Homo sapiens: one gene and its partner. The protein of the gene in region 2 purifies or fractionates together with the protein of the main gene of each other region. This does not show direct contact. Each region holds a gene or a part of one and is shown on either strand. Other genes may lie near its edges.

What was found. Proteins that work in one complex are often made in the same cells at the same time.
Region 1: the proteins of PFDN4 (region 2) and PFDN1 purify together in Homo sapiens (affinity purification with mass spectrometry; 6 studies listed by BioGRID and IntAct, with this or other methods). This does not show direct contact.

Annotation. Positions count from the first base shown.
Region 1 is NC_000005.10:140,296,462-140,300,215, forward strand, and holds part of PFDN1 (prefoldin subunit 1), read right to left. Parts: intron 1-3,754. UniProt on the Homo sapiens protein: Binds specifically to cytosolic chaperonin (c-CPN) and transfers target proteins to it. Binds to nascent polypeptide chain and promotes folding in an environment in which there are many competing pathways for nonnative proteins.
Region 2 is NC_000020.11:54,211,079-54,214,832, reverse strand, and holds part of PFDN4 (prefoldin subunit 4), read right to left. Parts: intron 483-3,754; coding exon 375-482; intron 1-374. UniProt on the Homo sapiens protein: Binds specifically to cytosolic chaperonin (c-CPN) and transfers target proteins to it. Binds to nascent polypeptide chain and promotes folding in an environment in which there are many competing pathways for nonnative proteins.

The sequences.
Region 1 (3,754 bases), on a different chromosome or scaffold from region 2:
AACAAAAGCCCTACTATCGCCAAGGAAAGAGTGAATGAGTCTGCCCCAGGGGCTGAAAAAATCTTCAGAGGCAAAGTAAGAGTAGAGCTATGTCTTGAAGGATAAGAATTTCACAAGGAAAAGAGGAATATTGCCAGCCAAGGACAATGTTATTCGCCAAAGACTGAGCAAAAGCAAAAAAGCACAAAAACATAACATGTGTGAGGAAACCTATGTGGCAAGGGTAGGATAACAATTTCTAGTACATGTGCTACTACTCTTCTACCCTCACTGTGTAACAGACATCACTAATCAATTAAAGCATGTTTAAAACCCATTTGACATCTCAAAATTCTTCTCAACATATAACACAAACTAGTAGAAGGAGGTAGGTCCATGAGATGAAATATACATGCTATCCTAACCCTGGAAAAAGAAAGTGGTGGGACTTGAGGCAAAGGGTAAATTAAGAACAGATTATGAATAACCATGAATGCAAGGCCAACAAGTTTAGATTTTATCCTGTGGACAACAGAGGATGAACAAAGGACTTTAGGAAGAATATTGATGTGATTAATTCTGAAAGATATGTGAAGAATGGATTTGGACAGACAGAATGAAGGCAGGAAGAAAGAACAGTTAAGATGCTATCATAAAAGTCCAGGCAAGAAGCAATGAGACCTGAATTTCAGCAATGGGAAAATCTACTGCATGTTCTAAAAGAAAAATGAAGTTTTGGATTTTATTATAACCATTTTATTACGGTTTTAAAATGAAAATTTGGGAAAAAGTAATATTCTAGTCAGAATTCCCAAATAACACTCAAAATGGAAAAGAAAAAACAAAGTAAGGTAAAGACTAGAATTAAAGAAGTGAATCACAATGATACCCAAAATTACTCGACTATAAATTCAGAAATAGATATCTCAGGTTTAGCATCAAGAAAGAGAACATCCTCATGACCAGACTAATACTCAGCAAGTCTTTTCTTCCTCTCAGGGCACTAATACGCTAGCCAAACAACAAACGCTATTCACCTTACATGCCCCTACAATACAGGGTCAAACTCATACTCCCGGTGAGATGCAGACAGCACTAAAGTCAAATTTAAAACAGAAGTCTGAAATCATGTAGAAGCTCAACTTTATCCAAACATTTAAAACTCCACACTTCTTTTAAGAAACGTAATTTATATGAAATAAACCTTCTGGAAATAATACCATTCTACTATTTATTAATTCATATCCTAGCCTTTAAACTCCAAAATTCTTGGTATGGAAAACAACTTATCTGTAGCACTTTGGAAAATATGTACAAAAAACAACTCTCCTAACACTTCTGCAGAACGTTTAATAAATGAAACTATTCTAATTAAAAATTAAAACTTCACTGTAGCTCAAAAGCCCAAAGGGAGTAAAACGTTTTTTCTATTTTGAAAAAGGAATTCTTTAGCTATTGCAAACAAAGGCTAGCGCAGTGATGTGAAATCCAAGTACAACATGTTAATAAAGCTGGCATTACTGTTTTAAGACCTAAGGATATTCACATTAAGGATAAAATTATCCTGTAGTGAATGCCAACAATGCATTTCATACTACACAGACACATATTCAAGGGTTCTACTTTGTTCCAATTCTTTTGTGTCCCAGTAACAAACTCTCAAATTGGGATCCTTATCCTCTTAAACTAAAATGAAATATATGAGCTTGGACATAAAATTTACTTGTGCTACATTATTCATTCTGAGAAAGCAAATCAGATGAACAATTTAACATAATCTAATTCTGAACCATAAAGATATGGATTAGTCAGTGATGAGCAGGTCTACTTCTCATGATGTCATTCCAAAGTCATTATTAAATTTTACACATGTTATTCTTTCTTCAAATCAATCACAAAACAAGTCATCCCGAGACTGAGGTCAAATTCCATTCTAACTAAAAGATCTCCAAATCTGAAGTAATGGTCTACTTACTAAGTAATACTCAAAGACCAAATTCCAGAAAAACCCTCCTCCTGTACCTCCCCCCAACTTAAAAAAAAAAAAAATCAGTCTTCTCCTTTTAGCTCACTGTAATGGAATGTGACCTGTACTTAAGGGCTTTTCCATTCCTTTTTTTCTGCTTACAGAATATGAAGCAGACCTATTCTCTCTCACAAGGGCAATATGCTTTTAAAAGAAAAAAAAGTGAAATGTACGAAGTTAATAATGTATTAATTAGAACAAACAAAAGTAAAATAATTTACTAGATTTCTCACATGTGAGTTGTCCTCCTATTAGAACAATGCATGACACTTAGAATGAGTGTATTTTTTACTTTTTTTTTTTTTGAGGCAGAGTTTCACTCTTGTTGCCCAGGCTGGAGTGTAATGGCGCAATCTCGGCTCACTGCAACCTCCACCTCCTGGGTTCGAGCAGTTCTCCTGCCTCAGTCTCGTAACTGGGATTACAGGTGTGCGCCACCATGCCTCGCTAATTTTTGTATTTTTAGTAGAGATGGGGTTTCACCATGTTGGCCAGGCTGGTCTCAAACCCCTAACCTCAGGGGATCCACCCACCTTGGCCTCCTGCAGTGCTGAGATTACAGGCATGAGCCACTATGCCTGGCCAGAATGAGTGTATTTAAATGACAATTGAATTTTTATTTTTATTTTACAACACTGATCAGACATCTGAAAGATTTATGATTTGTATCACTCCTAATAAATTAAGCAGGGAAGAGGAGGTTAAAACTGCACCTACTTAAATAAATCTTCTTCACATACAATATAATATTGCTATAAACATTTTCCATGACAAATCATTTTTATTACTGAACTTACACTTAAGTACCTAATCATAGACAGAACAGGAAAGTAAGCACTTAAGAAATGTACTTTGAGGCCAGGGGCGGTGGCTCACGCCTGTAATCCCAGCACTGTGGGAGGCCAAGGCGGGCGGATCAAGAGGAGAGATTGAGACCATCCTGGCCAACACGGTAAAACCCCATTTCTACTAAAAATACAAAAATTAGCCGGGCATGGTAGCATGCGCCTGTAGTCCCAGCTACTCAGGAGGCTGAGGCAGAATTGTTTGAACCCAAGAGGCGGAGGTTGCAGTGAGCCAGAATCACACCACTGCACTCTAGCCTGGCAACAGAGCGAGACTCTGTCTCAAAAAAAAAAAAAAAATGTACTTTAAAGTCTAAACTTAAACACTTTAATTAATCTACCTGAAGTTCAGCTCCTCATTTTAAAAAAAGAAAGCATTTAATTAGATAATCTTTAAAGTTATTTCTAAGATACTTTAACCTGCCGGGTGTGGTGACTCATATCTGTAATCCAGCACTTTGGGAGGCTGAGGTGGGCGGATCAGGAGGTCAGGAGTTCCAGACCATCCTGGCAAATATGGTAAAACCCCGTCTCTACTAAAAACACAAAAATTAGCAGGGCGTGGTGGCAAGCGCCCGTAATCCCAGTCACTCAGGAGGCTGAAGCAGGGGAATCGCTTGAACCCAGGAGACGGAGATTGCAGTGAGCCAAGATCGGGCCATTGCACTCCAGCCTGGGCGATATAGCGAAAACTCCGTCTCAAAAAGAAAAAGATACTTACTTTAAACCAAAGTTTCTTTTGTTTTGAGACAGAGTCTAGCTCTGCTGCCCAGGCTGGAGTGCAGTGGCATGATTTCGGCTCACTGCAACCTCCACCTCCGGGGTTCAAGCGACTCTCCTGCCTCAGCCTCCCAAGTAGCCAAGACTACAGGCAAGTGCCACCATGCTCAGCTAATCTTTGTAT
Region 2 (3,754 bases):
GACACAGGCCCCAGATTTACTGGGGTAGGTGGCACTGGCAGCAGCAGCTTGGTGTTCCTAAGTCTGCAAGGGTGGCTTCCTCATTGGGAAGACAGCTGACTCTGGGATCAGTGGAGGCAACAGCTGTTCCACCGCCAGCCAAGTTCTCCGAGACTTGTTCCTGGAACCTCGGTCTAGACTCAAGCTCCTCAACAACTCTGTAAGTTATCGCATATCCCTTAAAAAAAAAATGACTTTCTGCTTAACTAGAGTGGATCGCGTCATTCATCTGCAACAAACAGCCCAGAGAAATATATATTCACTTGTTAACTGAGTTCAGTTTTAGTAGCTATAGTATAAAAAAATTTTATTCTTCTAATAATTATTTTCAATACCTTTTTTACTTCTATTTCTTCCTTCAGCTCTGTGATTCTACTTGTATTCCGTGCAAATTTGTTTATCTTTTGTTGATCTTCGAAAGTAACATTGACATCTTCTGCAGCCTGAAAGAAGTGTTTAAGTTTTTGTAAAATTTTAACGGAGAAGTTATCAGTTAGCTTTTTATATTTCTCAACAATAACTCAATAAGCCATTTGCACTCATATAGTCAAGAATCACAAGAAGTACAGAACATAACAAATGCCTTATTTTTTGCTCCACAAGCTTAAGGTTTGTTTGTAAATCTATAACCTTTTCTGATACTCCATAAAATAATTCCTAAGCTATAAACATATTGCAAACATAAAGAACAATTAATAAGTCCTTTTAAAAGGAAAGAAAAAAAGCCAACTTTTGGCACAGAGCAGAATTTCTCAAGTTGGAGCATTCTTTCATTAAGATGACCCAGGAAACAAAAAGTTACATGGTCAAATATATTGGTAAATGTCTCAGAGTAGTGTTTTTTTTTTCTTAGAGCTAAAACTTGCATGAGCTTACTGGCTAAAGGGTCACTGTACATTTCAGTGGCTCTATTCCATTCACAGCAAAAATTATGTTTATAATGTAGGACCTGTTTAAATGTCTTAATAAGGTCTACTTTACTAAAAAATGATGAAAATTGAATGTTTAGTATTTAAAAATTAATATTTAATGTGATTAAATTTACAAATTTGCAAATAAAGAGTACTTGGATAACATAAAGTACCAATGAAATAATAAAAAAATAGCTAACACTGATTGAATTTACTATGTGCCAAAACTTCCTAAGTACTTTATTATCTCTGCTAATCCTGCAATCCATCTTATTAGGGAGGATCACCAGCACTATTTTACAGATTGAGAAACTGAGGTACACTTTATATAATATGGCCAAAGCCACAGAGCCAGTAGGTGGTGGAACTTGATTTCAACCCAGGCAGACTGGCTTCAGAGGTCAGACAGGTCCATGAGTTCTCGGTAACTGAATGTGAACGTGCGTCTCTGTGAGTGTGCACGTGTGTGTGTGAGTGTGTACACAGGCTTAGGCACATCTGGAAGAGGCAGCAGGATGTCTGCTTTCATCAGATTCTCAAGGAGGTACCATATATTTTTAAAAAATAAAGCTAAAACATAAAACCAGACTCTCCTTAGGGTTTCCCTTCCATTTATAAAATGAAAACCAGAGCACCTGATTCTAGTTTAAAGAAGAAAAGATATTTGTGTGTGTATAAAAATAGTTCATACTGAAACACTACTTTTGGCTCTTTTGCAGTAACAGTAATGAGCTCACAACATTCACACTCCATCCCTGACCTGGTCTCTCATGACCATCGACTTAAGGTATGTGAACTTTTATTTCTCAGAGGTTGAAAGGCAGTGTCAAGCAATACAGAGCTCAGTGGTCGGAATATAACACAGTCCTCCCCTTTGTTAGGCTCTCATTCCAAGAAACAATTTCACATGCATTATGCCCCACCTCAACAACCCAGAAGATAGCCTGAAAAAATCCTTTACATCACACTATGTCTAGCTTTGAGTGTTCAACCGTATGCATAATTTTGATGAATATGGAAGTTGGGGAACACTGAGCTACGCTCAAGAAACCAAAGTCTATATCTTGGCACACAAGTCATTTTGCCTAAGTGAGAACTGTCAATTCCCTACGCAAATAGACAGCAGAGAATTCTGAAGAGTTCCTGTTTGCCTGAAGAGTATATGCCATTTTGTTTAAATATTGAACCCCCAACAGGCATTTATAGATGTATTTGTCTTGGTGAGGGCTCAACAGAGCCATTCACATGAACGGATCCAGTGCAGGACTGCCTGGCACATAACTAAGGCTAATACATGGTTTCTGAATTTGAATCTAAATCATGCTTGATCAGACTCAAACACATAGTTTCCAAAATGTGGTAGAGAGAATTTGGCTATCTGCTTTCTGTCTTTCCAAAGCAGGAATTTCCTGTTGTAGCCCCACCAAACCACAGGCATCAGCACACATGTGGCCCCTGGTATCCAGATCTTTACAGTGGTTTTCCCACTGGGGTTAAGGGCTAAAGTTGATGTGTGAGTCAAATATACTGCATGCCGCCCAGTGGAGTGCCATTTACAGCAGACAGTAAGATGTCAGTGCCTTTGATGGCTAACAGAGGCTTCTGTTTTAGTCTCACTGTCCTAGAACATTCCTACATTTCTTGAAGCTGCATTTTGGCAAGAAGTGGGTAATTTTTTTTTTTTTTTGGTGAGACAGAGTCTCACTCTGTCGCCCAGGCTGAAGTGCAGTAGCATGATCTTGGCTCACTGCAACCTCCACTTCCCGGGTTCAAGCCATTCTCCTGCCTCAGCCTCCCAAGTAGCTGAGATTACATGCACATGCCACCATGTCCGGCTAATTTTCGTATTTTTAGTAGAGAAGGGGTTTCACCATGTTGGCCAGGCTGGTCTTGAACTCCTAACCTCAGGTGATCCACCAGCCTCGGCCTCCCAAAGTGCTGGGATTACAGGCTTGAGCCACCACGCCCAGCCAGAAGTGGGTAATTCTTAACTGGGGGGTGGGGGTGGTCAATGGACATTGACAGGTCGATATACCCAGAGACTGTATGCAAAATGGCATGTATAGTATGTGCATCCTTCTGGAAGGTCTTCATAGCTTTCACCAGATTCTCAAAGGGATCCACAACCCCAAAAGGTTAGGAACTCCTGCCTTCAGGGAAACCAGCTGTAGCTACTCTCAAAGTCAGAAGAACTCTAGGAAGAACTCATATCCTATAGTATCTGAGGCAGCACACAGAGTGGTGGGAAGAGTCAGGCTGCAATCCAATCCAAGCAAACAGGAACCTTGGGCAAATTACCCAATTCTTTGGAACCACCTCAGGTTTCTCATCTGTAAAATGGAGAGGCTAGTTCCTACCTTATAGGGTTGATAAAATGAACATGTAGGAGAAAGCCTGATGATGGAGTCAGTCAAATGATAGCTAAGCATTTTACATCCTGAATATTGTTTATCAAAAATCATTACAAAGAACAGATCCAGATCTAGAAAGAAATTCTGCTAGGCCAAAGAGAAATATGCCTGCTCGGGATCCAAAGTAAAAATTAAAATTCCCTGGGCTCTTTTCTTGAGAACTAATATCTTACGGGATTAGAGGAGGAAACTGAACCATACTCAGTCATGCCTCACACCAAGTCTAGGTATTACACGGAGTCTGCACTGACAGCTGGGTCCCTAGAAATAAATTCTGGCCAATTTCAGTCTTTTATTTTTACTTTTAAAAACATATCTACCAAGTCTGTATGATGTAAACTTTTGCTTTGTATTTGTATTCAACCTTCTTTGTTTGTTTTTTTGTTTTTGAGA